4 linked regions of the Homo sapiens genome follow. The protein of the gene in region 3 interacts with the protein of the main gene of each other region in a pairwise test. Each region holds a gene or a part of one and is shown on either strand. Other genes may lie near its edges. The genes, in order: RNMT, SH2B2, PLEKHA3 and DOK3.

What was found.
Region 1: the proteins of PLEKHA3 (region 3) and RNMT interact in binary tests that used the Homo sapiens proteins (3 or more experiments, as listed by UniProt).
Region 2: the proteins of PLEKHA3 (region 3) and SH2B2 interact in binary tests that used the Homo sapiens proteins (3 or more experiments, as listed by UniProt).
Region 4: the proteins of PLEKHA3 (region 3) and DOK3 interact in binary tests that used the Homo sapiens proteins (3 or more experiments, as listed by UniProt).

What each region holds. Positions count from the first base shown.
Region 1 is NC_000018.10:13,729,544-13,736,790, forward strand, and holds part of RNMT (mRNA cap guanine-N(7) methyltransferase), read left to right. Parts: intron 1-1,083; 5' UTR 1,084-1,212; intron 1,213-1,932; 5' UTR 1,933-1,974; coding exon 1,975-2,391; intron 2,392-4,920; coding exon 4,921-5,056; intron 5,057-7,247. UniProt on the Homo sapiens protein: Catalytic subunit of the mRNA-capping methyltransferase RNMT:RAMAC complex that methylates the N7 position of the added guanosine to the 5'-cap structure of mRNAs. Binds RNA containing 5'-terminal GpppC.
Region 2 is NC_000007.14:102,282,708-102,290,040, reverse strand, and holds the start of SH2B2 (SH2B adapter protein 2), read right to left. Parts: upstream 3,174-7,333; 5' UTR 2,947-3,173; intron 2,381-2,946; exon of another isoform or gene 1,564-2,380; coding exon of another isoform or gene 1,554-1,563; intron 576-1,553; exon of another isoform or gene 524-575; intron 1-523. UniProt on the Homo sapiens protein: Adapter protein for several members of the tyrosine kinase receptor family. Involved in multiple signaling pathways. May be involved in coupling from immunoreceptor to Ras signaling. Acts as a negative regulator of cytokine signaling in collaboration with CBL.
Region 3 is NC_000002.12:178,497,299-178,504,545, reverse strand, and holds part of PLEKHA3 (pleckstrin homology domain-containing family A member 3), read right to left. Parts: intron 5,336-7,247; coding exon 5,292-5,335; intron 3,486-5,291; coding exon 3,370-3,485; intron 787-3,369; coding exon 659-786; 3' UTR 1-658. UniProt on the Homo sapiens protein: Plays a role in regulation of vesicular cargo transport from the trans-Golgi network (TGN) to the plasma membrane.
Region 4 is NC_000005.10:177,506,625-177,514,588, forward strand, and holds the start of DOK3 (docking protein 3), read right to left. Parts: upstream 3,203-7,964; 5' UTR 3,134-3,202; intron 3,034-3,133; 5' UTR 2,917-3,033; coding exon 2,851-2,916; intron 1,919-2,850; coding exon 1,613-1,918; intron 1-1,612. Other genes in the region: probable ATP-dependent RNA helicase DDX41, read right to left, coding at 5,167-5,303, 5,472-5,582, 5,698-5,769, 5,872-6,021, 6,156-6,252, 6,387-6,458, 6,729-6,860, 7,061-7,223. UniProt on the Homo sapiens protein: DOK proteins are enzymatically inert adaptor or scaffolding proteins. They provide a docking platform for the assembly of multimolecular signaling complexes. DOK3 is a negative regulator of JNK signaling in B-cells through interaction with INPP5D/SHIP1.

The sequences.
Region 1 (7,247 bases), on a different chromosome or scaffold from region 3:
TTAAGTATTTGTTCTGAAAATCACTTTTCTGATTTGTTGTTGTTGTTCTCTGATTCAGTTCTATTTGGTACTTCTTGGTATTTTGTTACCTCAAATGGTGGGTCATGAAAACTAATAACCATTGAAACCCTTACCCATTCATAGTGAGTGACTTGTTACCCATTCCTTTAAGCAACTTGATTTCTTATTCTTTTTCATTATCCAAAAGGCTTTTTATTTATTTACTTTTTTTTTTAAGCACAAACACTTCCTTCATGAAAAAGCTTTTTTTTTTTAAGTGGGGTCTCACTTTGTTGTCTAGGCTGGAGTACAGTGGCACAATCATGGCTCACTGCAGCCTGGACCTCCTGGGCTCAGGTGATCCTCCTACTTCAGCCTGCTGAGTAACTGGGACTAAGGCATGTGCCACCATGCCCAGCTATTTTTTGTAGAGACGGGATTTTGCCATGTTGCCCAACCTGGTCTCGAACTCCAGAGCTCAAGCAGTCTGCCCACCTCGTTCCCCCAAAGTGGTGGGATTACAGGTGTGAGCCACTGTGCCCAGCGAAAGCTTAACATTTTAATAGTGGTATATAAGCTATAAACATCTTGAAAACATGATTTACATTGAGCTTCTCCATAGTAGGAGGTCACTAAATTTGTTGAATGGCTTAATAAATGAACCACCATAATTCTTGCCCAATAGATAGTTCAGTTATTTCTCTCGCTTTCCCATCTTAATGTAGGTCTAAAAACATATTTGAAAGAGACTTAATGGTCATCAAACTGCAGGCTGAGTCCTGAAACTTGTCTAAAGCCATTTCTACTCTCTTCACTTTCTACCTAATTGGAACACCCATTATGAAATACGATTTCAGAATTCTTGCTGTAGAATCCCAAACTTTTTCTGTTCTTGATGCCCTTAGTGTCCATAGGCCAAAAGAAATATAACAGTTCCATTTATTAAGTAGTTTACCCCAAAGAATTTAAAAGTATTTATGGTCTAACAACTTTATGTCTGTTTAAAAAATTAACACACATAAATTGGGGGGAAAGGTAATGTTTCTGTTTTATTCTTGATTAATCACAATCCCTTACTAACAGGATGTGTGAACCTATTGGGTACTGTACAACTTCAAGCCTCGAAATCAGATAGGCACCACCAACCTCATTTCCTGTTTCACCTTGATTTTCTGTGATACCAAAATCTCAGCTTCACAAAGTCATTGAAAGGTATGTAGTGTAATCTATTCAGCTGGAACTGTGCTGTACTTAAAGCTGGTAGTTTCTGTGATATCTTCCACATTAGGTTCTGTGGTGCCTGTTTGTTATGGTGCCAACCATGCAGTTTGGGAACCAGGGTTATAGAGTAAGGATCAGAACCAAAATGGAACTAGTGCATGTGTATCGCCACTTCATTTGTCAGCTTTAATGCCAACAGTGACTTTTATGAATAAGATTATAGAATTTTGGGGGGATTATAATTAGTACTGCCATATTCAGAAATTCATACATAGTATCAGTTAACATTTTTTAATATGCTCTCTACAATGAGATTTTTTTAAACTCCTAGTTGATCAAATTCTAGTTAAAATTATTTTAGGCCAGGCGCAGTGGCTTACGCCTGTAATCCCAGCACTTTGGGAGGCCAAGGCAGGCGGATCACCTGGGGTCAGGAGTTAGAGACCAGCCTGCCCAACGTGGGGAAATCGCGTCTCAGCTAAACATACAAAAAATTAGCCAGGCGTGGTGGCAGGTGCCTGTAATCCCAGCTACTGGGGAGGCTGAGGCGGGAGAATCACTTGAACCCCAGAGGCGGAGCTTGCAGTGAGCCGAGATCATGCCATTGCACTCCAGCCTGGGCGACAAGAGTGAAACTCCGTCTCAAAAAAAAAAAAAATTGTTTTAAAGTCTTAGTGTTTACAAGTAATACCAATTTTTTTCCTATTCTAGTGTTGGTTCATGAAGTTTTACCATCAATTCAAGTAATCATAAATGGCAAATTCTGCAAAAGCAGAAGAATATGAAAAGATGTCTCTTGAACAGGCAAAAGCGTCAGTGAATTCTGAAACAGAGTCTTCATTCAATATTAATGAAAACACAACAGCTTCTGGGACTGGGCTTTCTGAAAAGACTTCTGTCTGTAGGCAAGTAGACATAGCAAGAAAGAGAAAAGAGTTTGAAGATGATCTTGTAAAGGAAAGTTCTAGTTGTGGGAAAGACACTCCATCCAAGAAGAGAAAACTTGATCCTGAAATTGTCCCAGAGGAAAAAGATTGTGGTGATGCTGAAGGCAATTCAAAGAAAAGAAAAAGAGAAACTGAGGATGTTCCAAAAGATAAATCTTCTACTGGAGATGGCACTCAAAATAAGAGAAAAATAGCACTTGAGGATGTTCCTGAAAAGCAGAAAGTATGTTCAGTGTATTTTCATTTATTCATAATAGAATATGTAAGTTTGAAATGTGGAACACCCGTGGATTCATACTGGTTTTTACATAATAGCTTAAGAATGTTCTATTTTTAATAGATATGGTCCTAAGACAAAGTAGGCTTTTAACTCTTATGATTTCTGTTAAGGTGAAACATCTCCTGCTAATGAGATAGATTTTTTAGTTTTTGTTTGTTTTTATTTTCTAATGAGATAATGTTTATCTTATTTTAGAATATTTAACTAGAAACTTTTTTTTCCGAGACAGAGTCTTGCACTGTCGCCCAGGCTGGAGTGTGATGGTGTAATCAAAGCTCACTGCAGCCACAACCTCCTGGGCATAAGCAGTCCTCCGGCGTTTTTAAAAAGACTAGAGTATGAGATCCAAATGATTTACCTATTTTTCTTTTTTATTAGGTGTTCAGCTCTAGTTTTTTTGTCAGAGGTTATCACTTAAAGGGATAACTTTTAAAATTATACCTAGCTTTACATCCCTTTATTAATGTAATTCCTTAAACAGTTTTCAGCTTCTTATTAATGTATTTTACATACTGTTTTAGTTAAGTGAATGCAAATGCCTAATATTTAGCAAAGATATTATAGGGCAAGTTGTTTTCATCTGGAAGTACCACATTAGAAAGGAATTTGAGGCAGAATCTGGAGTTAGAGGAAAAGATTACTTTAATGAGTAAATAAAATTCTGCCATTGGCCCTTATGAGGAAAGTGACTGATAGTGAGGCTTTTGTCATCAATGGAATGTGAATTCTTGTAACAGAGGGGAGCCCCCCCTTTTTTTTTTTTTTTTTTTTGGAGACAGAGTCTCACTCTGTCTCCTAGGCTAGAGTGCAGTGGTGTAAACTCGGCTCACTGCAACCTCCACCTCCCGGGACCTCCACCTCCCGGGTTCAAGCGATTCTCCTGCCTCAGCCTCCCGAGTAGCTGGGACTACAGGTGCCCACCACCATGCCTGGCTAATTTTTGTGTTTTTTAGTACAGATGGGATTTCACCATATTGGCCAGGCTGGTCTTGAATTCCTGACCTTGTGATCTGCCCACCTCAGCCTCCCAAAGTGCTGGGATTACAGGCATGAGCCACTGCGCCTGGCTGGGAGCTTGTATTTTAAACATAGTTTTCAAACTTTTACTAGCCCCAGAACCCCTTTTTCAACTGAAAATCTTACACTTAAACCTGTTACGTAAAATAGGTCAAGGATTTGTTTGAAAGGCCTTTCAGCACATCAGTGAGATTCAGCACTTTGGCTGAAAAGGGAGGTAGGAGGATCCGAAGCCCTTTACCTATCATGGCATTTTTACAGGATTTCTAGGGCCTCAGGAAGCACAAATTGAAAACTGTTGGGTTACATGTAACATATATAATAGCATTATTATAATAGAAATCACTAACGCTGCACATAGCCTACTGAATTCTAATCTCTCTTTTTTTTTGAGAGTCTCGCTCTGTTGCCCATGCTGGAGTGCGGTGGCCCGATCTCGGCTCACTGCAACCTCCACCTCCTGGGTTCAAGCGATTCTCCTGCCTCAGCCTCCTGAGTAGCTGGAATTACAGGTGTGCACCACCATGCCCAGCTAATTTTTGTATTTTTAGTAGAGATAGGGTTTCACCATGTTGGCCAGGCTGGTCTCAAACTCCTGACTTCAAGTGATCCTCCCACCTGGGCCTCCCACAGTGCTGGGATTATAGGTATGAGCCACCTCACCCAGGCCTAATCTCTTTATATACATTATCTTATTTAATTTTCACAACAGCTTTATAATAATAATGTAATTATAGCTTATTCCTAATTTATTCCTTTGTAGAAACACCAAACATTGACTGTCATTTATTGAACTGAATAAATCAGAACTCTGGAAGAGTACTGGGTTTATTAAGACATTGACACTAAAATTAATGCAGATGAAATATCACAATGAAAATTTTAAACCTAGAGATGTTTTTCAAAATAAGGTGATATGGTTTGGGTGTGTCCCTACCCAGATCTCATCTTGAATTATAGCTCTCATAATTCCCACATGTGTGGGAGGGACCTGATGTGAGATAATTGAATCATGGGCGCAGTTCCCCATACTTTTCTCATGGTAGTGAATAAGTCTCACGAGATCTGATGGTTTTATAAGGGGTTTCCCCTTTTACTTGGCTCTCATTGTCTCTTGCCTGCCGCCATGTAAGACCTGCCTTTCACCTTCCACCATGATTGTGAGGCCTCCCCCGCCACGAGGAACTGTGAGTCCATTGAACCTCTTTTTGTTTATAAATTACCCAGTCTCCGGTACGTCTTTAGCAGCAACATTAAAATGGACTGATACACAGGGACACAGAAAACAAATCTTAGGTCTAATGATAATTAGTGAGACTTCTGTGGTTAATTGCCATTGTTTAGTGAAGTTTACCAATTCTAATAGCATTTTATCCATTCACAGGTCAAATGTTCTGAGGCTTATTTTTACCATGTTCTGATCCTTGATTTTTTTCTATTCTCTTTTATTTTCAGAATCTGGAAGAAGGACACAGCTCAACAGTGGCTGCCCATTACAATGAACTTCAGGAAGTTGGTTTGGAGAAGCGTAGTCAAAGTCGTATTTTTTACCTAAGAAACTTTAATAATTGGATGAAAAGTGTTCTCATTGGTATGATCCAACACCAAGCTACTGAGTCTTTAATTCCTATTCATTTAATTATCAAACCTTGACTTTATAAAGCTAGAGCCAAGACTAGGTCTTGAAGACAAATTCTTCTAATATTTACTTTTGGTTGACTGTGTAAGATTTTAATGAGTGTTTAATTATTATGTTAATCAGGTTTTCAGAAGGCAATATTTTTTTTAATGCACAGAATTAAGGTTACCTAGTACTATTAAGTAATGATTCTATTTTACTCTAATAGTTTTGGAGCAACTGCATATTGTTGGTTAAACATTCAGGTTTCATTAAGTCAAGAAATAGGCAGTGTCTTGATTTGTTTAGGCCTTCAATTAGTTGATAAAGATCATGTGTATTACATTGAGGATAGATAAAAACATTCAACTTTTTTGAGCCAACATTTTATCTATGGAAACTCACCTTTGAAATTAAAATGAAAGTGAACAGAGAAAATATGATTCAGAATACAATTCTTGTCGGCACCGTAAGATAGGGTAAAAAAAAGAATATAATTATTGCTCTGTATATTTAGTGCATTAAGTAGACTCTTAGATAAATTTAGAGAACTTTAAAAAGTGGTTTGTTTTAAAATTTTTCATAATAAAGATTTTTTTAAAGCCAGTCAAAGAAGAAGTGAGAATGCTTTCTTAATTATGCTAGAAAGAATAAAGTGCTAATTATGGGTACTTCCTACTAGTTTTGATGATAATTTACTAATTTTCAAAGATAAATTACCTAATCTGATAAGTATTAGCAGTAGGAACTAACTAGGCTTACTTTGAACACATTTTAACATTTTGTATATCACTTGTTTTTAACATTCATGTTCTGTTACAAAAATATTTATTTGACTCTGCCATGTGTCAGCTTAGGCTAAATGAGTGTTCACTTTTTTTTTTTTTTTTTAAGATTAACGTAATGGCATTTTCAGTCTCTACTCACAAGGTTCTCTCTCTACCCCAGTCCTAATTTCTTTTCAGCCTTTCTCTTCCTTCATTACCCTCAATGATGCAGATAACTTATTGGATTTTTTATGAATACTTATTTATTCATGTATTTTTTTATTGAATAACTTTTTCGAGTCCATATTTTCCACATTGTTACATGTATTATTTCTATAATCAGAAAAGAGGTATTTTTTTTTAAAGGACTGAAGTCAGAGTTGGCAAAATTGTCTCTTGGCATATACAGGGTATTCTTTCCTTTTTCAGCTGTTCTAGCAGCTCTCTTGATGTGTGCTTTGCACCTGTGTTTAACATCCTAATACAATCAGTGTGATCTGTGCCAAGCTTTCTCTCTGGCTGTTTCCTTTCTCAACACTCATTCTTTGTCACTCATTTTCTCTTTTTTCTTGGTGCTTGTAGCTTGGTAAGTAAACAGTTGAGTATAGTTCTTGAATGTGATAAAGGCTTTTTTGAAATTGTTTCTTGATGATTTCCTCTCTCGTTAGTCTTACTGTATATAAATGCAGAGATTTTATAATTGTTTTTCGCTCTTTCAGTATTTTTATGCTATTAAGATTCATGGCAGAAAGTTAAATATTATGGAACATTTGTGCTTCTGTTGAAGTTACTTTAAGTTCCTGCAGAAGGTGAAAGTACTTGTACAGGATATTTTTAGCCATCAAAATAATACACACCTGAAAGTGTCCAGCTCAGTGATAAAGACAAGGAGAATGTATCTAGGATTCAGTATTGTATCAAGTTTTAGAACTGTTGAATACTTAACTTGCCTGAGAATATTAATATGCTTTTAATCGACGTTTGAACAATTTGCCTATTGATGTTTGGTTGCCTACTGATTTTATCTGTTGGCTGTTAATGTCATTTAGTAGACTGGGGTCTACCAAATACTGATGATGCTAAAACTAAAAGACATAGTGCTTTTTTTTTTTCTAGTTTTTATATTTCTCTTGGTGGTAAGCCTGACATCTTTGATAATCAGGCTCTTTTATCATTCCATAACAACTTTGATTTACTTACGTGTCTACTGTTAAACACCTAGCTATGGAAAGAGAAAGCTACAAAAAAAAATATGAATAATTAGTTTTTCTAATCCTTACTTAGCTTTTTCTCTCATCCTGAACAAGTGTTGTGTTGTCTTATATTAGAATTTTAAATATCTGCTATTTAAAATTCATTTTTGAAAGTTAACATTCAAAATGCTGCCTTTATTTTCC
Region 2 (7,333 bases), on a different chromosome or scaffold from region 3:
TAAGCAGGGAGTGGGGGCCAGGACAACAAGCTAAGCCAGGGCCTGTGGGCTCAAGAGGCAGACTCAGCCTCCTTCAGGAGCACCCAGTGCTGGACAGTTCCTGGATGGGCTCTGCAGGTGGAGGACAGGCTGAGCTGGTTCCAGCTGCACTGGCCCTGGTTACTCCCACCCCACCCTGCCTTTCTGGGGTTGCAGAGCAGAGGTTCCCCCCTCCCATCTCCAGCCTTGGCCTGAGACACTCAGCCCCTTCCACTCCCCCAGTGTCATAACTCTCACATGGGCCCTGGCCCAGCCCCCTAAACCTGCAGGATACCCCCTTAGTGCCCCTCACCAACTCATCCCACCCAGCTGCCTTCTGGCTTTTCCAGGACACTCATACCAGTGCCTCCTGAGACCTCTGGTGGCACCCCTAAGATCTGAGCATCCCCGAACTCTGGAGACTACAGGTGCTAATAAAGCTTCCCTGGGCCTTTCTCTGAGCTCAACTCCCAGCCTGGCTGATCTCCAGGTACCTCAAACTCACCACATCCAAGTTCAAATACATCCTCTTCCTCCAACTCCTGCCTGTCCTCTGCACAGAGCCTCAGCACCCAGCTGGGCACTGCCTACTTCCCCTGTTCTGCCCCAATAGCAGGCAGGCCCCCAAGCCCACAGAGGCCTCGGGAACGCCCCTTGATCCTCTTCCCACCTCCACCCTTGCCCCCTGCCCCTCCACCACACCACATGGCTGTGGCCTGTCTCTTCCACCGAACCGTGAGCTCCTGGCTGGTTGTCCTCCCCACCCCCCAGGTGGGCGCTACCCTCAGATGGCCCGGAAGTATGTGGAGAATGGGGCCCAAACCCTGCTTCACCCAGAGGAACCAAAAGATGCTGCACGCCCACACAGCGATGCCCTGCCTTGCTCTGCCCAAACAGGTGTGGGCTGTGACCTCGTGTTGAGGGGTCACACCTGCTATCCCCCTAGACAGAGCATAGCCATAAAACGGCACCCAGCCAGGTGAGCAGGGAAGAGAAACCTCCCCAGGCCCCAGGGCTCTGACCAGTCCCCTGGCCTCACTTGGACAGTAAGAATGAGCGTAGCCCCGGGAAGACAGCAGCCAGGAGGCCTGAAGCCCCTAAACCCCCAATTCCTTGCAACCCAGGCTGGGTAGGCAGGGCAAGAAGTGCCAGCCTCTTGTCAGAGAGGAGTGGTTGGGAGGCCTGGCTCGTTGACTGCGGGACTTTGGGCCAGTCACTTCCCCTCCCTAAGTGTGTGGGGATAATAATAGCACTAAACCCACAGGATTGTTGTAAAGATGACACGAACGGCGATCCTGATGCCCTTAGCTTGGCACAAGTAAGTTTGAAACCAAAAGCTCAGCCCTGGGAGGCCCAGGATCACTTGGGTGGAGATCCCACTTCCAAGACCCCCAAGGGAAGCCCACCCCTGGGTATTTGTATAGAAGTCCTCCCTAGGAGATTCACGCTAAGTAGGGAAGAGGGATTTAGAAACTTCAGACAGATTTTTCACAACAAGGGTAAAAAGAAAAGCGTGTGCATTAACCCTTGATTACCTAGAAGCATTCAACCAAGCAGCATCAGAAGCCGGCCTGCCACGGGGTGGGGCTGTTCTTGTATGTTGGTAGGACAGACCTCTAAGGAAGTAGCTGGTGGGAAACTGTCTCTGAGACCCCCAAAAATGCCCTGATCCACACTAGCCTAAAAGAAGTGCCACCACCGCCACCACCAGACCTCTCCCAAAGCTCCTGGAGCTGAAAAGTTCTAGGTCACTCTCCCAACCTCTTCCTGCGTGGAGTGGGGAGGCCAGGAGGGAAGAGGTTGGGAGAGTTCAAGGTGGGACACAGTAGTGGGGGCTTCAGCTCAAGAGGCAGTCAAAACCTCTTGGGGAAACCACACCCCCTGCCCCCAGTCCTCCCAGAGGAGCTCCAGGGACCTGACTCTGGGACGCAATTCCTGCCGGGAGTTGCCGGTCCCTTAGCCAGGAGGCAGGCAGCACCATCCCATTTTACAGGGTAGGTGATGTTGGCTCGGGGGCATTGGTAGGGCTCCACCCAGGTCTGACAGCCTAGCCTGAGGCTCTCCCTTGCACTAGCTCGAAGTGCACGTAGATCCTGGCTTATTCGTGTTCAGAGTCTCGCCTGGGGCTGCCCGGTCTGCCTTGCGTGGCTCCTGAGAGGCTCCAGTCACTGCAGACTTCCCTCCCTGAAGGCCCCCACTTCGGGGCTGCAGGGGGCCAGGATGCGTCCCTGCCTCTGCCCGGCTTCAGCCCGCTGGGCTGGCGCGGTTCCGGCCCGCGCAGCCCGCAGGTTCATCAATGGCCGAGGCCCAAGGGCCTGAATGGAGGGCACGAACCCGCCCCTTCTTAAAGGCGCCGGCCTCTTGGGCACCCTCCACGATCCTCCCGGCAATCGGGGGCTCCGGGGAGCTCCCCGGCTGGGCAGGTCGAGAAAGGGGGGCCTGGGCCAAAGGGAGGGCGTGCCTGTGGCCTGGAGGAGGTCCTCCCCGATCCCATCCCGTGGCCCTCACCCTCATTCTAGGTTGACGCCCCCTCCCAGCGCTCCCAGCGTAGGGAAGAGACCTGGGCACCCCTTCCCCCAACCAGAGACCCCTCCTCTAAGGACCCGGCTGCTCTCGCCCCACTACCCGGCCGGGGCCCTAGCAGGGGGCGGGGGCGCAGCTGCTCCAGAGGCGGCTCGGCCCCTCCAGCGGCTCCCCGCCCCGCCCGGGATGGGGATCGGGGAGCAGATCCCAGCCGGGGGCGCCTCCCCTCCCTCGCGCGCCCTCCTCCCTCCCACCCGCGCACACAAAGACGACACGCGCGGACCAAGGCGCGTGCGGCCGCTCTCCTTCGGGCAGCGGTGCGCACACAGCGCACGTCCCCGGGGACAGACAGGGGTCCCGGGGGAAGGACCAGGGAGCGAGGAACTGGGTATAAGGAGGCCATACCTACAGGCGCGCAGCTGCGGCCGAGCGGGCTGGGGCGCCGGCTGAGCGCTGCCCGGACCGCGGCCGGGCTCCCCGGGCCCGGTGGCTCATGGCCCGCGGCGGACTGGGCTCCCTCCCTCGTTCACCGCCTCGAAGGCTCCTGCGCTCCTCGCGGTCCCGGCGCGTCCCCCGCGCGGCTCTCTGGCAGCCGAGCTCCGCGCGCTCCAAGCCCAGCCCCAGCGCGGCGCGCCCCTCCGCCCGCGAGGCGCGCGCCTCCCGGCCCCGCCCCGCCCCCGCCCCCGCCGCGAGCCCCGGCCCCGCCCCCCCTCGCGCGTCCTGGCCCCGCCCCCTCCCGCCCCCACTTGCGCCGCTCAGGCCCCGCCCCCGGCCATCCGCGGAGCCCGAGCGGCGCCGGTGGCCGGTGCTTGCTGGCTCCCCGCAGCTGCGGTGCCGAGACTGCCCGGTCCTGGGGCCCGGAGAGAGGGGTTAGGAGCCGGCTCCGAGTCGCCCCATCTGGGCGGGGGTCCCCATGTCGCCGAGCCGGCCCCAGGCCAGGCGCGGGACTCCCACTCCTCCTCGTGGAGGCCACCCCTCGAGCCCGCGGTGGTGGTGGCCCCGGGAGCGCGGAGCGTGGGGCCGGGGGAATGTCCTGCGTGGCGGGTGTATGGGACGCGGACGCCCTCGAAGCGCCCCTCGCTGACGGGTGCTTCGCGGGAGCCGCCGCTGTGGCCAGACTCTCCGCAGCAGGGACAATGGGAGCCTGGAGGAGGCCTGGATGTCGCAACGGAGGAAGTCGACGCCTGGTTCTCATAAATCTCGAGGGCGCCACCACGCCCCCTCCCTGCAGCCCTCCGGTGCGGGAAATCGCCCCCGGGCCACAGGGCGGGACGGCCCCCCTGAGCGCAGTGCCCCCACCACCCAGCCTTCGCTGTGATGGGGGCCTGATGCCACCCGGAGAGGTGTCAGAGATCATAGAGGGGCGATGAGGGGCCACAACCCTGGCACCTTCCTCACCCCTGCCTGGCTCCAGAACTCGCCTGCTTTAGGGCAGAGACCAGTGGGGCTGAGGAAACAGTCCCGCTGGGCTTTGCGGGGCATTTGTAGCCTGACCCCTGGTGCTGAGGGCACAGCGCGGGGGCTCTGGGAGGCTTCCTGAAAGAGGTGCAGGGGGCTCAGCAGGCCTGGAAGGGGTCTGAGAGGGGAGGGAGGGCTTCGGTGGGGGCAGAGGTGTGGAAAGGGCCGCTCAGAGAAGAGAGTAGTCTTGCTCCTGGAGATAGCAGGGGGGGACCCCTGGGTGTCTTCTCCCCTCATCTCCCTCCTTGTCCCCTGCCCCCACCTCTGGCAGTTCTGTCCTGGTCTCCTTGCCAGCCGGAGCTGCCTCCATCTGTCGCCCTCCCGGGCCCAAACTGACCTCTGACTTTTCCCAGAGCCATTTCCCATCTCTAATTTACAGACAAGGGTTTTTATCAAACCCTTCTTAGGGATGGAAAGGTGGGGCTTCCAGAGTTGAAGGTGGAGGGGACAGAGCCTTCACCTGCTGCCCAAAACCCCGGTGCTGCCCTCCACGGGGGCACGGAAGACAGGCAGACCCCTTCCCTGCCCCACATCTCGGCTCTGTTCCCTCCGCAGGACCAGGCCAGCAGACACTTTAATGAAAGCTTCGGCAGTGGGCCAGCCCTCGATCGGAGCTGCACACAGGCCTGCACGCCTGGTTGGGAACCAGGACACCTATGAATGAGGCCGGGAAGGGGGAGGAGGGGGTGCCCGAGAGTGGGAGAAAGGGAAGCTCCATACATGGCCTGGTTGTGGTCTCCACCCTCCTGGGAGAGGGGAGAGCCTGACCCGCGGTGGACTAACCTGGTTCAGAGTAGTGGGCTGAACTCCACTGCTGGGATGATAGCGGCCAGAGAGGGTCCTGAGATGGGAAGCCATGGGCAGGACAATAGCTTGGATCCATCCCCAGGGAGGAAGAAGTGAGGAGGGGCCGGCGGCAGAGCGCCTCGGACCCACAAGGAGGAACTGATGGAGATGTGGAAGTGGCTGTGGGGGTGGAGGGGGCGTGGTTGGCCAAGAGCAGCTGTCGCCTCGCTGGGGATAGGAATGAAGGTCAGGGAGGAAAGGTCCATCCTGGGTCCCTGAGGGCAGGAGGCTTGAGGGGCTTGGAAGAAGTCCTCATGGGGGAGATGAGGGGTGCTGGGACGGGGACCCCAAAGAAAGGCCCCTGGATACACATGCTTTAGACTGTTCAGAACTAAAATGGAGACAGAGGTAGCACAGGGGACCCTGGCCTGGTGGGCTGCAGTGGGGGACCTGGGTTTGCAGCCAGTCTTGTGACAGCTGGACAATGAGTTAATGCACCCACTCCAGACCCAGAGAATGCGCTCCTCTATCTGAGGCTGGGCTGGAGGTGAGGTGGCCCAGAACCTGTGTCTCGGGGGGTTCCCATGCGAGGCTGGTGCTCAGGGAGATTGATGGGCACGGGCTTTGCAGCCCCTGGCAGGCGGGGGCCCATGGGAAAGGGGAGCACAGAAAGGGAAGCAGAGATTCCCCAGGAACTGACGTGGACCAAGACACGTCATACACCCAACCACAGCCCGACAGGTGGTTTTTTTTTTTTTTTTGAGATGGAGTCTCACTCTGTTTCCCAGGCTGGAGTGCACTGGCACGATCTCAGCTCACTGCAACCTCCGCCTCCCGGGTTCAAACGATTCTCCTGCCTCACCCTCCTGAGTGGCTGGGATTACAGGCATGCGCCACCATGCCCAGCTAATTTTTGTATTTTTGGTAGAGACGGGGTTTCACCACGTTGGCCAGGCTGGTCACGAACTCCTGACCTCAAGTGATCCACCTGCCTCGGCCTCCCAAAGCGCTGGGATTACAGGTGTGACCCACCGCGCCTGGCCCCGGGTGGTTTTTGAATAAAGGAATGGGTTTCCCTTTTTGATGGTGCTACTTGTCCTCTCAAAAGCACTCGGACACTGGATCTGGGTTTCAGCAGAGCTCTGAATGTACTCATGGAATTCCTGGAGATGAGAAGAGGGGGAGGAATGTTCTGTGTGCCCAGCTGTGAGGCCAGCCCCAGCTCCCAGGGGTGGCACCGCAGGCATCCCCACCAGCCTCCAGTCCCTCCAGCGTCCCAGAGCACAGGGCACCAGGGTGGCTGCAACCGTGGTTTATTTCAAATGTGCAAAGCTAAATATGCAACTACAAATCTAACTCAGGAAGGCCTGCCAGTGGCCCTGAGAGGTGGCCGTGCTAGGGTGGTCCACAGCCAGTTCTGATTGGCTAGGAGACGTTCAGACCCCTCATACCAATCCATGAGTCTGAAGAGACTGGGGCTCGGGGGCTCATTAGAGACTCTTCCTTATCTAGAAACCAGAATATCTTGCTAAAGAAGAAAGCAGAAATCACATGGGTCTGGGGGCAGGGAGGGGGTAATAGAAACTGTTCCGCTGGCTGGGGCTCTCTCTCTTGGGGTGCAGTGGGGGAGGGGGCAGACTCTGTCAAGCCTCATATACTCTGCAGGGTGGGGCTGGTGGCAAAGGCAGGCTGGGGGTGCTGGACTCAAAGCCTGCTGTCCTGGAAGGAAGCGTCTTCCACCTCTTACGGGGCATGGGGGGATCCTAGGAGAGCCCAAGAGGATCGCAGTGCAGACAGGCCCAAGCTGGATTAACCGCAGCTGGAATCGGTGGTCACCCAATTAGCCTCGCAGCTGAGGGACCTCTGCCACCAGGGCTAGAGGTCAGGCTGCGGGCAGAGCCCTAACCTGAGGTGGGGGCTGAGAGGGTCTCTGCGGCTTAGCCTGGCCGGGCATTGGGGGCTCGCTCTCTGGACCTAGCGGGCCTGATGTGACCGAGACATTCTTTCAAGGGGACCCGAGGTGACCTGGGGCCTCTGGCAGCTGCTGGACAGCGGATAAGGGCAGTTTCCATGGGGGATTCTTCAGGGGAGTCTAAGTGATTAGATGCACTGAGCAGTCGGGGTGGAGGCGCAGCCGTCACTGTCACGGGGGAGGCCCCGGGGTATCACTGCCACAAGTCACCAGCCGCAGCCCCGTTGTCATTCTCGTGGAACTTGTGCAGGTGGTCAGCGAACCTGGGGGACACGGGAAGCTTTGCTGAGGCCGAGTGTGTGTGTTGGGGAAGGGGGGTGTGTACCATGTGATGGGGTGGGGCTAGGGGGTAGTGGATACCGGGAGTAGGGGTAGGGGGAGGGCCAGAATGGGGGGCTGTGATGGAGGGCTAAGGAGTGGGGGACATGAGGCAGGAACTCGGGGGTGTTGCGGGGGTGCTGGGAGCTCGCTGTGGGGCTGAGGGGGGGCCCAAGTGGGGGTCCTCACTTCTTGGCGCAGAAGGTGGCACAGTCCCTCTCCATGCTCTCGCTCCATGCCAGCTTGTAGAGCACCTGG
Region 3 (7,247 bases):
AGGCAACAAGAAAATAAATACATAAAAATTAAACACTTTAACCCAAAATTTGGTATTGACAAATCAGTAGTGTCAACTTCACATATGAAGGACAATACAGTCTGGTTATTTAAAGATGCTCAATATGTCATGGTATTTGGGCTAAAGATACTTAGAATATTGTGTTTCCTTTTTGATTAAAGGAATACAATACAATCACCATCAAGCTGCTATCGTAACTCATTTTTAGCTGTGGTAAAGTGACCATTTGGTCCATGGCACAAGTTACATATATCACACTTCTGTCAAACTGAAACCTTATAAGATTTCATGTTTATAAGCTACAATACACCCTGACCATGCTGTCAGTCCCCTCAGAGTTTTTAAGAAAAATATCTACATTTGTCCTTATGGATGTCAAAATGTTACACCATCATTTGTTCAAAAAAAAAAGATGCACATTCATACTGTGAAGTTATTAGGAAAATACTCTTGCAAACAAACTATATAAAGATAAAATACACTTCAAAAGTATGTGGTTTGTTTTCTTGTTTGTCTGTTTTACAACATTCTATAAAGTGCAGAGTCCTAAGGGAAAAAACTACTCCCTATAACAATAGTTTAATTACAGCAGCTTTTGCATAGCAATACTTAGAGGAAGTTGGACACTTCAGTTTCTTCAGGAAGAGAAGGATGGAAGAGTATCTTCTGATTCAGATTGTTTTTTGGCCATAAGTCTGCTTTCTTCAGGAATGGTTGCTGATGCCAAATCTCCATTAAGTGTATTTTTTGAACAGTGAACAGGTCCTATGAAGACATTGATAAAAACGTTAAACATCCTGTCAATATTAACTCCAGTCCTCTGTGAAAGAACATTTTAAATTTCCTGTTCAGGGACATGAAATTCCTTTAGCTTCTGGCTAATTTTGTATTTCCTTGTTTGTTTCATGCAGGAAAACTTAACTTTTAGACTAGAGTATCAACAGCCACAAGGAGAAACATCAGAATTCATAAGATAAATGATGAAATTGCCTGAAGTAGAGATTTTTGTTTTGTTCACTGCTAGAATCATGGTTGGCACATAATAGGTAGTCAATAAATATTTGCTGAATTGAATTTAATCTTTATTAATTAACTATTGCTTTTTCAGCCTATTTTAATGCTGTTAATATCCTCCTTGTTCCTAGGCAAAGAAACCAAGACCCATAAAAGGATACATGCCTTACCCAAGATCACACAATTGGTAACAGAACGAGGACTAAATTCAGGTATTCCTCTTTTCATTCTAAGACTTTCTGAGCAAAGCTGACAAGGTACCTCATACTGAAAGATCCCATTTCTCCATTTGTAATGCAGCTCACAGAACTATCACTGCAACTCCATGTTAACACAGCTGACTACACTGGCATAGTCCTGTTCTAAGGCAGTTGTACCTTTATATATATAGTTTGAGTTTACCATCATCATTTATTACTTTCATACTTTTTGAAAAAGCTTGTTAAAGAAAATAGAAGCAGTTGCATCTCACAAGAAGAATATTTTTGAGTAACAACTTTCAACTAAGACTGCCAATTGCAAAATATATACTTTCTGGAAAGAGCACTAATTCAATCTTTGCTTTGTCAGCTAATTGAAACACTAAACTAGTATAAACAGGAAAAAATCTAAGGATAAAATTTCTGACCTAGTCTATACTTGCTAATTTAAAGATGTTCTAGAGAAGTGAACTATATGTATGCGCGTGTGTGTGTGTGCGTGCGTGTGTGTGTGTGTGAGACTAGTTTTGTTACAGTCCATAACAGTTAAACTGGGGGATGCTAAATATAATAGAGCATGTACACCTAGATCTTTTGAAAATTGTTTTCAAATATTCAGGACTAGAGTAACTAGAAGAAAAGAATTCTAAAGAAAAATGGATGGCTTTAAAAAAATTATTTTAGTAATCACAAATGATCCCCTTAAAAAAAAAAAAAGATGTCGCACTTAAAACTACAAGGTAGCATACAGAACTCCTTCATGAACTCTGGATTAAGAGTCATGTGTAAAAGGCATAAAGAATAAAGAGAATCAGAGTCTATCTTACCTGCCTCAGATAACTTTTTTCACATACTCAACCTCTTTAACCCTCCTCCTCTCCTCCTCTTCTCTTCCAGGTCTTGCTTGATTGGCCCAAGAAAGTTTCTTTCTCCCTTCCCCTTCCCGGTTTCTTTCCTTCATTTCTCCACCCACATCTCAATTTAAATTCAAAATGTTAATGAGCATAGAATAGTGCCATATATTAATAAATAGATGATTAATTCAGTTTAAAAAAAAAGTGGGCATTAAAAAAAAAAAAAGATTCTATCAACTCCTAAAAATCCAAAAATGACCAGCAATCCTTTTTAAAATTGCCATATGTATGAACTAAACCTGTTTAACTTTCTGGTTACATAAAACAACTCCAGCTTAATCAGTGTTTTCAATACACTCAAATGCTAGAAATACACCATTGTTTTGTCCCATTTCAGCCATACTATGAATTCACTGGGCTCTTCCAAAGAATGGTTAGCTATCCAAAGAGCTAACCACCACTTATCATGTCATTTCCACAAGAAAAATAAAATCTGTTTTCCAAACAACTGACTTACAAATGAACTAACTATTGGAACACGACCTGTTCCTTAATTGGAAATTGTACATAGTTTCTATCCCACATGCTTCCTGAGAAATAGTAGAGACTTGGAGAGTATAAGTCTATTAATGGAGATGTAATAATAAGACTATATTTGTGTTCACTGCAAATCATGGTCACTACTATCTTACTAGATATTCTGACACACTTTCAAAGCTTCTTCTCTGAAGAGAAAAATTTAAAAATTTTAACATAAATCACAAAACCTTTCCTAAAAACATTCAATCACAGTATGCTGCCTCTTTAATAAGGAAGAAAAAGGTAGAGGAATGAATGCTACTATAATTCACTGTGACTACCAGACAAAATTCTTTTCCTTAGCCATTTCTAGGTATTTTAGTAAAGTAACAATGCTGACTTTTATATGAACTTGGAACTTGCCTTTATTTTCCCCTAGAATCCTGCTAACAATTCATGCCTTCTTCTAAAATGTTTTTTAAGTCCTAGTGGTGGTAAAAGATCATGATATTCTATAAATATATATCTGAGATACGATATTTACAAAGCAATCCTCAGCACTCCTTAGTTAGTAACAAACCTGTTTGTAAGGGGATATATGAGCTTTCATTGATTGAGCGCTGTTTGCTTACCTCTGAATTAAGGAATCAAAGAAACAAAGTACAATGTTCAGTCAGTATACTTCATTTCCAGAAATTACAGAGCCCCACAGTAATTTTGCTGAATATGCCAAAGAAAGAGACAGAATCTATGTCACTTACTATCTGGGTCTTCAAGAGGAATATCACTACAAGAATCTGTATCTGAGTAGGTTCTTCGGCGTCGCTGGGAGAGTCGGTGAAGTGTAGATACTGGTTCTTTTATAGAGTGGCTACTCCTGCAAATTAAGTAAAAAGCATTAAATTGTAAGGCCTTACATAAACAAAAACACACTCAACTGGAATTTTAAATGACTTCTCTTTAAGTGAAAAAAGAATTATTTTTATGCTCAACGTCCCGTGTTAGCAACATTCTACTCAGAAGTCAAAAACAAGTGAACCCATTTAGAAGACAGCTGGTAACCTGGAGAATATGGCTTCTGAGCTGAACTAAAAGGAAGAGGGGTACAATGAAGAAGTAGTGACTTCTGTAGGGGAGACTCCAGAGAGCAGACATATCAGTCGGTTTACAAATGTTTGAAAACTAGAAGTCATAGGTTTCATGAATGCATGTATTTTAAGTCAATCCATATCTGATCAAAACCAGCAGACTGAAAGAGATGGGCAAGGAGTTCATAGAGCTAGAGGTAGACTCACTGACAACAGCAAGAGAAGATAAAGATGGCAAAAAGGGGCCTAGAAAAACTCTTTTAAAAATCTGTCTGAAAAATTTAAACAGAGAAGCAAATCACCACCACCTAACAGCATCTCAGCTACTATTTTTGTAACAGCCCAACTTTACTGTACTTAATGACAACCTTGATTCATCAGGAAACAAATAAGATTTTAAAATTATTATTTTATGAGGTAGAAAGGATAGAAAAATTTCTTTCATAAAAATAAAAGTTGGTCAAAAATTGATTAAGCTTCCATTTTTCTGGAAAATTCAGTTGGTGGGACTCTTGATTCCCTGACAAGGTTGGATATATACATCATTGGATTCCTCTGAGTATTTGACAGTTTAATCAAAGATTATACAATCATCAGGGGAAAAAATTAAAACATGACAAAACAGCATTTAACAGTCCAAATATAGAGAAATAAATGCCAATGTCACTATAATTAAATCACTTTCCAAAGAACTAAATAAGACAACCATAGCAACTTAAAGGACTATTACCTAACAAAATAATAGTTTAACAACTTAGCATTTTGGTAAGATCTATCCAGAAGGTAAAATTTTTAAACGTATTGATATGAATATGTACTTTAAAATATCAAGTGGTTTTCTCTCTTCAGCAAGATCTTTCTCTCTTAATGAAACAACAGCTCAGCATGAATAGATGATGCTATAAACAGCTGAGGTAAAATGAGCCCTAGCTGTGGAGTCTCAACACATCAAAAATGTACTTCTGTCTAACCATCACTTGATATACAGTCATGCGTCTCTTAATGACAAGGATGCATTCTGAGAAATCCATCGCTAGGTGATTCTGTCACTGTGCAAACATCACAGAGCGTGCTTACACAAAACTAGCTAGTATAGCCTACTACACATGTAGGCTATGTGGTATAGCCTATTGTTCTTAGGCTACAAACTTCTACTGCATGTTACTGTACTGAATGTTGTGGGTGACTGTAACAATGGTATTTGTGTATCTAAACATACCTAAACATGGAAAAAGTACAGTAAAAATATGGTATTATAATCTTATGAGGCCACTGTCACATATGCAGTCTATCATTGATGGAAAAGTCATTCTTCAATATATGACTGCATTTCAAACATCTAAAAAAGGTAAAATGGCTGGCAACGTGCTTACCTTGCTGGTTAATTCATTCATTTTTTTCTTTACTGACTACCTACTGAGGCCAGGCCCTTATACTAAATACTAGGAGATAAATACTGAGAGATAAAATGCTGGTTTTGAACCAGACCTAACCCATACAGAGTTTACATTCCACACCACTTGTTAAAGGCCCAAAGAACTTCCCTAGATGGATATAATTTGAGAGAACTTAGTCAGAAGAAAAGGTTCTTTTACCTCTCTGAACTGCAAGAACCAGGGTGGCTGACAGAACGCTTCATCTAGAAATTTTGGAAAAAAAAAAAAAAATTAGCATAATCCATATGTCAAGTAGAATCATGCAGCTCTAATTTACTATTATCATAATAAACATAAATTTACTCAGAGAAAAAGATAACTGGCAAAAAAAAATTTAATCTTTCACAGACTCAAGCAACATAATTAGTACAACATCAAGCTTTCTCCCTAATAACCATTAATTGGAATCTTTTTCAACACACACCAAAAACATGCTGGATTCTTTTTTCAAAAGTGAAAACCAAATTTTATACATAATACATATATATGTGTGTGTATACAAATATAAAAAACAGGGTATATAACTATAAATAAGATATAAATGTGATAAAAAAGGAGTATCTAGCAAGCCACAAAATATTCTAATAAATATCTCTTTTTTAAAGGACAGTAGTAGAGTCTGGCAGCAAAGCTTCTCTTTATCATTAATTATTTAGGTAGCTGATATACAAATGTTCTAAAGTGTGGTTTTCATGGAAAACAGCATTAATAATTCAAGACTTTAAAGAACTCAGAAGAAGAACCCTAAGTCTCAGTGGATTTCCAAAACATATATTTAAAAAAATAAAGAATACCTAATTAAGCAGAACATTTAAAAAATATGATAAATACTAAACATAATTTGGAAGATCCAACTACTCCATCAAAATATAAAGGGAGGCAGCCAAGTAAAACTGATTATTTCAAAGTTTAACATGGTAGCAGAAAAACAAAGATTATACTAAAGGTTTAGGGTGGTTGCTTTTGTATACATGAGCCCAAGAGTCTAACAAGCCCAGGTCTAACATTGATGTTATGCAAATGCCTTCTATATTTGGAACATGAGCCACTAGTTGCTCTGAGAAATACCAGTTGAAATGCTAAGAGATATGACCCACCCAGTTTGTAGTCTGGGAACATCTGATAAGATTGACATTAAGATGCAAATGGCCACTAACATCTCCTTTAACAGAAATTACTTCCTTTAGGCTTACTAACCCAAGGACATCCCCACTATAATAATCACTCAATCTGTAGGTCCAGTGATGGTTGTCTGAACTTTTATGACAACTTGAAATAAAGTTAAATGCAAGTTTACTCTAAGATGAATTCATTGAGATTAACTATATAAAGTGCTTATAAAGATCAGATTAAAGCACTTACAAAGATCAGATTAAATTGTTTTGGAATACTCAAATTTTCAGCTTTATTTTTCATATAAATAAATGTAAGTTTTTCATATAAATAAATAAACAATGTTATTTAAAAAAAAAACATGAAGATTGTCTGACCTTACTTTCCATGCTATTTGTCTCTAGAACTAATAATTATTTTAGTTTCTTATATGTAAAATACGCATTGACTTCTCTGGACTACAGAGCATTTGTAACATAAGGGATTTCCTGAGAAGTTCAATGCAGAAGCAAGGCAACTCTGAGGTGTTTTACTGCATTTGACTCTAAAAAGTACAGCTTAAAAAAAAAAAGTGTACCCTTTGTCTATCAACCTCAGGAACACAGCACTACACATCCATCTCAAAACACTGGTTTCTTTGTTCACACATACTTGTTAATTAACAGTTTATAGCATATCTACAATTGTCCTAAAAAGCAACATTGTCAAACTATGTTTTACTCAACACCACACCACAGTCCTGTAAGATGGTATTAAAAAATACATAAAATGGGCCAGGCGCAGTGTCTCACGCCTGTAATCCCAACACTTTGGAAGACTAAGGCGGGCAGATCACGAGGTCAGGAGATCGAGACCATCCTGGCTAACATGGTGAAACCCCGTCTCTACTAAAAATACAAAAAATTAGCTGGGCATGGTGGCAGGCGCCTGTGGTCCCATCTGCTCAGGAGGCTGAGGCAGGAGAATGGCATGAACCCAGGAGGCGGAGCTTGCAGTGAGCTG
Region 4 (7,964 bases), on a different chromosome or scaffold from region 3:
CACTACGCCCGGCCCATTTTACATCTTAAAGTGTATCATCAGTGCTCTTTTTTTTCTTTTCTTTTTTTTTTTTTTTTTTTTGAGACGGAGTTTTGCTCTCGTTGCCCAGGCTGGAGTGCAATGGCATGATCTCGGCTCACCGCAACCTCTGCCTCCCAGGTTCAAGCAATTCTGCCTGCCTCAGCCTCCCGAGTAGCTGGCATTACAGGCATGCACCACCATGCCCAGCTACTTCTGTATTTTTAGTAGAGACGGGGTTTCTCCATGTTGAGGCTGGTCTCGAACTTCTGACCTCAGGTGATCCGCCCGCCTCGGCCTCCCAAAGTGCTGGGATTATAGGCCTGAGCCACCGCACCCGGCCACCAGTGCTTTTTAGTATACTCACAAGGCTGTGCACTGTTGCCACTGTCTAGTTCCAGAACTTTTCCATCATCCCACATGGAAGCCCTGTACCCATGAGCAGCCACTCCCCACTTCTCCCTTCCTCCAGCTCCTGCCAACACTCATCTGATTTCTATCCCAATGGAGTTACCTTGTCTGTACATTTCTTTCTTTCTTCTTTTCTTTTTTTTTTTTGAGACAGGGTCTCACTATGTTGCCCAGGCTGATCTTGAATTCCTAGGCTCAAGCAATCCTCCTACCTCAGCCTCCCAAAGTGCTAAGATTACAGGCAAGAGCTACTGTGCCAGGCGTTTGTTTGTTTTTATGGCTGAGTAGTATTCCATCTTGCGGACGGACCACGTTTTGCTTATCCATTTGTCAGCTGATGGCCATGTAGGCTGTTTCCACCTTCTGGTGGCTGTGAGTAGTGCTGCTATGGACGTTCATGTCCATGTGGGTTTTTTTTTAAGATAGGGTCTTGCTCTGTCTCCCGGGCTGGAGTGAAGTGGCACGATTACAGCTCACTGCAGCCTCGACCTCTGGGGCTCATGCGATCCTCCTGCCTCACATGTACATGTTTTGTTTGAACACCTGTTCAAGTTCTCTTGGGCACACACCTAGGAGTGGACCTGTGGGCCACATGGTAACTCTGTTTACCTCTTTGAAGAACCCCCAGGCTCACTTCCTTTTGACCCATCACAGACCTTTTGGGGCTTTACAAACATGTCCGGCTTAAACCCTCCAAAGCCTTCGCCTCTCACTCAGAACAAAACCACACACATGGCCTAGGGCATTTCAGCCGCTCTCCTAAGCTCTGTGAGTTGGCTTCCTCCTGCACTCCTTTCCTTCCAGCCACGTCGCCTTCTTTCTGCCCTTAAACACCCCACACTGTCCGGCCTCGGGGCCTCTGCCCACGGGACTCCCTCTGTTCACAACTCCCCAGGCTGCCCCTGTCCTCAGACCTTTGCCCAGTGGGTTCCTGTCATTCAGGGCCCTCCTCTGAGAGGCCTTCCCTGGCCACCCTGCCCGTCGCTCCCTCACTTCCTCCTGCTCCCCTGGCGGTCCATTTTCTCCATGGCACGCACGGCCCTCTGAGAGTCATTATAGATTTACTTTTCCCAGGCTTGTAGGTGCTCGGTGGAGCTTGCTGGGTGATGGGATGTGAGCGTGGAGGTGGACAAGTCGGGGGCAGGTGCCCCAGCCCAATCGCCCCCCTGCTCGCCGCACTCACCGGGAAGGCCAGCTGGCAGATGGGGCCCATCCAGGCCTGGCGGTGCTGAGCAGCCAGTAGATGGCTTCGCTCGGTGGTGGTGAGCAGGAAGGCACCGGTGTCCCGGGGGCAGCTCTCGCCGTCAGCCGGCAGCACGGACACACAGTCAGCCAGGCGGATGACCCGTCGCTCCCCTCGCCGGCCAGGCCCTGCCGACCTGTCACCCGCTGCTCCCAGGCCACCATCCCGGACCTCCCAGCTCTCCAGCCGTGCCACGCCTGATGGGCCTCCTGCATACAGCAGAGCCCACACCTTCCGCCAGCACTTCTGCGGGAGGGGAGCGGGAGGGTGAAGACCCTTGGGTGGCAGATTGTCCGTGCCACTTGGCTCAGCACAAGCTGCTCGGCAAACGCTCCCAGCCAGGAGCGGGCCTCTGCTCCCCAGTTTCTCAGGGAGCCAGGTAAGGAGGCCTTGGCTATGCTTGGGATTGGTCAGCCCTGGGTTCAAATCCCAGCCCGCTCTTTCCTAACTGTGACCTCCACAAGCATCAATGTCGTCTCTCAAAAGGCCATGAGAACTCGAGCTGGGACTGCTACTGGGTCATGTTTGTAAAGCATCCAGTGGCCGGGCAGACCACCAGACACTGCCATTATATTGGTTCCCTCTCACCCCCAAAAAGGGGCACTTGGGCCACAGGCCAAGAGCTGGGGTGGGAGGGAGGCCTCTGCCTCAAGCTGTTAAGGAAGGAAACATGCAAATAGCTTCGAGCAAAGGAAACTGACGGTTTATCTGCCTGGGCAGCAGCTGCAGCTGAGCTGCGGGGGTGTGGGGCTGCTGCCGAGGAGAGGTGACCCCCTGCCTCCTTGCTCCCAGGACAGTGCCGCTGCAGGGAGGGGCTCCACCCTTGAGGCCTCCTCCAGCTCAGCCCCTCACCCTATTTAGGGCCCTCGGTGGCACTATTTCATGGGTCAGAGGCTGTGAAGCTCTTCCCTGCTGGGAGGTTTGAGCCTTCGACCCTCTCCCACTCCTGTATTTCCCATCTCTCCCGGAGGCAGGGTCTGGCAGAGCCTGCTCAGCCCCTGCCGTCTCAGGCTGACACCCGCACTCCATTCCACTCCCCATACCTGGGTGGGATCCTCCACCCTGACTCCCTTCCCAAGTCTCCCAGGTCTGCCTGGGCTGTCCGAGGCAGGGGCAGAGGCTGCATTCTCCACCCACTGTTGGTCCTTGGCAGCTGCCTGGCAGCCAGGGGTCCCCACCTTGCCAAACTTGACATGCTGCTGGTAGAGGATGCCATCCTTGATAGGGGTCTCCAGAGGGTCCATGGTCACGGCCAGGAGCAGGGCCGCCGCTTCAAGACCTGGGGAGACTGATGACAGGCTGGACGGGAACTCCTCACACTTCCCCTTCTGGCCACTTCCCGTCCCTCCGTCTAGAGACAGCTGCAGGCCGGGGGGAGGGGAGCCTGTCTTCAGCTCAGGGGCTGGGGGCAGCATGTATTTCCTCCCTGGGGTTCTGGCTGCCCAAGGTGCCCACACCTACCTGGAGGGAGCCCCCGGCCACCTGAAGGCAGCCTTCTCACGCACCTGGTTCAGCTGGGCACGCGCGTCTGATCGCAGTCTGGCTCCCCGAGTCATGAGTTCCCGCCCCTCCCCCGTCCCGCCCCGGGCAGCTGCGCACCCTGGGCCTGACACTCCCTGGCCCTGCCTCCACCCAGGACCCTTCTCTAGCCAACTCCTGGCTTTCCCACTCGGCGTCCTGGTTTGAGCGCCTCACCCCATCTTGCTGCTTTTCTTTCTCCCTGAAATCTCTCTCGTGTTCACCTGCTCCTCTCCACCTCACGAGCCACTGAACATCACCAGCCTTTGGCATCCCCCCAGGGGCCACTGCCCCACTGGGCCTCCATGCAGCACTCTCCACAACCCAAGACCAACCTGTCTCTCCCCTTCCTGGGGTGCAGCCCAGGCTCCTCAGCCCAACACTCAGGGACCTGTGTGTTCTGGCCTGCATCTCCCCCAGGCCAGCCCCTCCAGGGCCCCCTCACCACTGTGCTGCCTGGGGCGGTTGGCCACCTCTTCCTCCTGGAGGCCTCCCTTGACCACTCCACGCTGTCCGAGAGCTCAAAGGCCCTCACGGTATACACTCACGCTGGGCATCCAGTCCACATGGGACCCACAGCCCTGAATGGCCCCAACCACGTGAGTGTGGGTGGCAGGTCCCAGGGGGCCCCGGAGAGGTCACATGTTCATTTAAAGCTTTGCTTCCTGCTGGGGGCGCCTTTTGTTGGCTTGCCTAGCAAGATGCCAATAGCGGGGCTGTGTGTATACCTTTATTCTGGAACAGCCTCAGGTCATTCAGCACCACCTCTGGGAGAGAACATGGAAGAGGATAAGGAATGCCATTTGGGAATGCACTTGGCCAGGAAATATGTCCTGAAGGCCTCCTGGCACCCAGCTCTGTGCCCACTGTGGCCCAAGCAGCCCTAAGCTCCGTCCACCTCAGACGCCACATCCTTTGCGTTCTCATCGCCATTTCAACAGTGAGGAAATCGGTGCTCAGAAAAATTAAGTAACTTGCCCAATGCCACATATCAAGTGACAAATATGGCTTGAGCAACCGCTGTCTCACTGGAATGAGCATGTGGCCATACATGCAAAGTGCCTGGCTCAGAGGAAGTGTGGCCGCCTGTGCCGTCCCTGCCTACCTCTCACCAGATGCTGAGATCCTGCCTCATCTGCTAGCGGTCTTGTGACTGCCGTCCACGTTTCTGCGTGTGCGTCTTTCTCTCCCCTCGCCTGACGGCTTCCCAGGCAGCCATCTCCCTGGCCCATCTAGGTCCTCACAGCTCAGCAGAGCTGGGCACAGAGCAGGCTTAGGGAGAGCTTGTGGCCTAAATGGCAGTTCTATGACATCTGCTGCCTCCTCAGTCAACGGAATGGAGGGCTCCCTCCAGGTGGCTGGCACAGGCAGGCAGTGGGTGGGGGTCCTGAGGCAAGAAGCAGCCTCCCAAGGGGCTTCAGGAGAAGTCCCTGAAACATCACAGCCCTGACAGGAAGAGTGGGCCTGAGAGCTATGACAGCTGGCCAGGGAGACCAGAGAATCCAAGCACTTCTCCTTGGCCCGCCAATGTGGTCCCTCCTTGAGTCATAAATTCAGACAACCCAGTGGAGAGACCCAGAGTCCCCAGAGGCGGGCACCAGCTCGGTGGCTCCTTCCACAGCCAAGTACCAGCAGGCCAGGTGTTGGCAGTGCTAGTGGGAGATGCTGGGGCCTTGCCTCAGAGGGGCTCCAGAGGTCAGAGGTGACGTCTGTCCAGGAACCAGGGGGCGGATGAGGTGAAACACAGAGGCAGGGCCAGGGCTGGGCTAGAGGTTTGGGCTTTAATGGCAGCTGGGGTAAAAGGAAACAAAAACAGTAATTCTGAAGAGCACAGGGAACAGGCAGCCAGGACCAGCCTGGCCCATCCCAGGCCAGCTGAGCTGAAATGCTGATTCTGTCCAGGGGGCTGCTGTATGTGTAGACTGGTGGCAGTCTTGGGGACTGAGGCCTCTTGGAGAGAAGGGAAGACTGTCGGCTCAGAAGTCCATGGAGCTGTGGGCCAGGTAGTCCTTGCGACCGATGTTGCTGACCTGCTTGGTCTGCATAGCCTCGAGTTTGGGGCAGTCAGTGATCCGATGACCCAGGCCCCCGCAGAAGGCACAGCCGCGCTCTCCTGGGGGAATGGGGACAGGGGTCAGCCAAGTCAAGGACCAGGATCCATGCCCTGGACTTCGGGCCCCCCGTTAGGCACCCTCGGTCCACCGGTTTCACGTTTCTGACTTCCAGCACCCCTCCTTGCCACCTGCCGGCTGGGGACTCGGGGATCCCGCTCTGCAGTCACCTCCAATGTCCAGCATGGACTCATCCCCGCAATGCAGCACCTGCAGCACGGGCGGCACCTTCTGCTTGGCTTCTAGCAGCAGCGCTTTGAGGTCCATCAGCACTGACTCATCTGGGGGAGGAGTGGGGAAGCATCAGGGCCCATCCTGGGCTCTGTGGCCAGAACCTGGGTGGCCACAGGCAGGGGACCCAGGGAACAGCTAAGGTGGCGCTGGTAACAGACTCACCACACGCTTTGTTGATGAAGGTAGTGGCGATGCCTGTGTTTCCCGAGCGCCCGGTGCGGCCAATCCGGTGTACTGCAGAGAGAAGGACAGAGTCTCTGGCCCATCGCTGGACACTAGGGGCCTGGCTTGGCCCTTTTCCGGCCTAACCCATGCCCTTGGGCCCCAGGCTCTTACCATAGTTCTCAATCTCCTCTGGCATGTCATAATTGATGACGTGCTGGATGGCAGGGAAGTCCAGGCCCTTGGAGGCAACGTCTGTGGCTACTAGGACATCCTTCTTGCCCTCCCGGAATGCCTCGATGGCCTTAGTCCGTTCCTCCTGGTCTGGGGAGGGTCAGGCAGACACTGTCAGAGCCACCATGGGACAGGGGAGTGGCAGGCCAACCAGGCAGGGGAAGGCATTAGGTAAAGCACTGCTACTGCAGCAGGGTCCAAGCCAGTGCTTGCACCACCCTGACCTTTGCCCCCATGGATGGCTACGGCCTCAACCCCCTTGAGCAGCAGGTACTCGTGGATGGCGTCCACGTCTGCCTTCTTCTCTGCAAAGATGAGTACCTGTCCGGAAAGACCAACTCCAGTCAGGGGCTAACTGCCTGGGCACCCACCGCACCTCCCCTGGCACTCTGTCCCCTCCAAAGCCCTCCCTGGTCCTGGGGACTCTGGCCCCGGCCTGGCCTGGCTGCACTCACAGGCGGGGGTGTCTTCTGCAGGCACTCGAGCAGGTACACCATCTTGGCCTCCTCCTTCACATATTCTACCTCCTGCCACCACAAAGATCAGGTCAGGTGATCTTGAGATTAGGCTTACCCGCCACAGCCCTGCCATGGCCCGTCATCTGGACCAGGAGGTGACCAGAAGCCTCTGGCCGCCAAGGGCTGGTGCCCTAAAAATGGCCCTGGTTAAGCGTCAGGGGCTTTGAATGAAACCCCCGGTTCCCACAAGGTGGACCCCCGGCTCCAATCAGCTTCAGGGAGACTTGTCAGATCCAGCCCCCACAGGTGAGAGACCGCCCATCAGGAGCACCTGCCCACCTGGATGACATCCAGGCTGGCAGCCCCAGCGCGCCCCACATTGATGGTCACAGGCTTTACAAGGGCACTCTTAGCAAAGTTCTGAATCTTCTTCGGCATGGTGGCACTGAAGAGCAGGGTCTGTCGCTGGCCCTGAGGAAGAGGGGGGCTGCGACCAAGGGCACACAGGGCTGGGCTGAGGGGCATGGGGTCTGGGGAAGCTGAGCAACTGAGACACAGCCCACAAAGTATGAGCAGTGGGTTGGGGTGGCCAGGGGCATGGGGTCCCTGCAGTCTGATGTGGCGTGCAGTGGGGGGCGGTGCAGGGTGCCCTGGCCGGGCGGGGGCGGCACCTTGAAGTAGGAGAAGATGGTACGGATGTCACCCTCGAAGCCCATGTCGATCATGCGGTCAGCCTCGTCCAGGGCCAGGTAGCGACAGATGTCTAGGCTGACCATCTTCTTCTGCAGCAAATCCATGAGGCGCCCCGGGGTGGCCACCATCATGTGTACACCGCTGGGGACCAAGGAGAGACCCTGAGGTTGGGGCCACTGGCCTATCACCTATCTAGAGGCAAGCAGGCACCCTGCATCTGCTCTGCTCTCTGTCCTCCTTCCTATTTCTTTGTCTGTCCCCTTCTCATCATTCCCACCACCTGCCCTATGTATAGCACACAGCTCTTTCCCAAGGCACTGCAGCCATCTTCACCACCGCTCGGCCTGGCGCGCCTTCCCCCTTCTCCTGGGTCAGCCTCTCACCCAGAAGCGCTGTCATCAAGCTCCAGAGGCTTTACTCTGGGCTCGCTTTCCTGGCCCACTGGCTTCACCTTTTCTGTGCTCACCATCTCCCTAATACTCAGAAGTCCGTGGAGGAAGGCCTCCGGGATGGGGTCTGGCCCATCTGTGAACAGAGGGCCTGGTCCAGGGCCTCTGGTGGTCTGCAGAGGACTGCACAGCACTGAAAGGACACAGGTGCCGCTGGGATCCAGCCCTACCCCAGTGCCTCAACCTCCTTGACTGACCACTGAATGACCCTGACCTTCCTGGGCCGTCCGCCTCTGTGCTTTCAGCCTGGACTGCCCCTCTTCCCAATTCAAATGTCACCTTCCCGGAAAAGCCTTCTCTGAGCTCCCACCTCCCAGATGTCCCCAGCAAGGTGGGCCATTCCATCTGCCGTGCTCCCACAGTACCTGGCCACATCCCTCTGTCCTCCCCCAACTAACCTCCCCATTAGACTGGGAGCTCCTTGAGGGTCGCA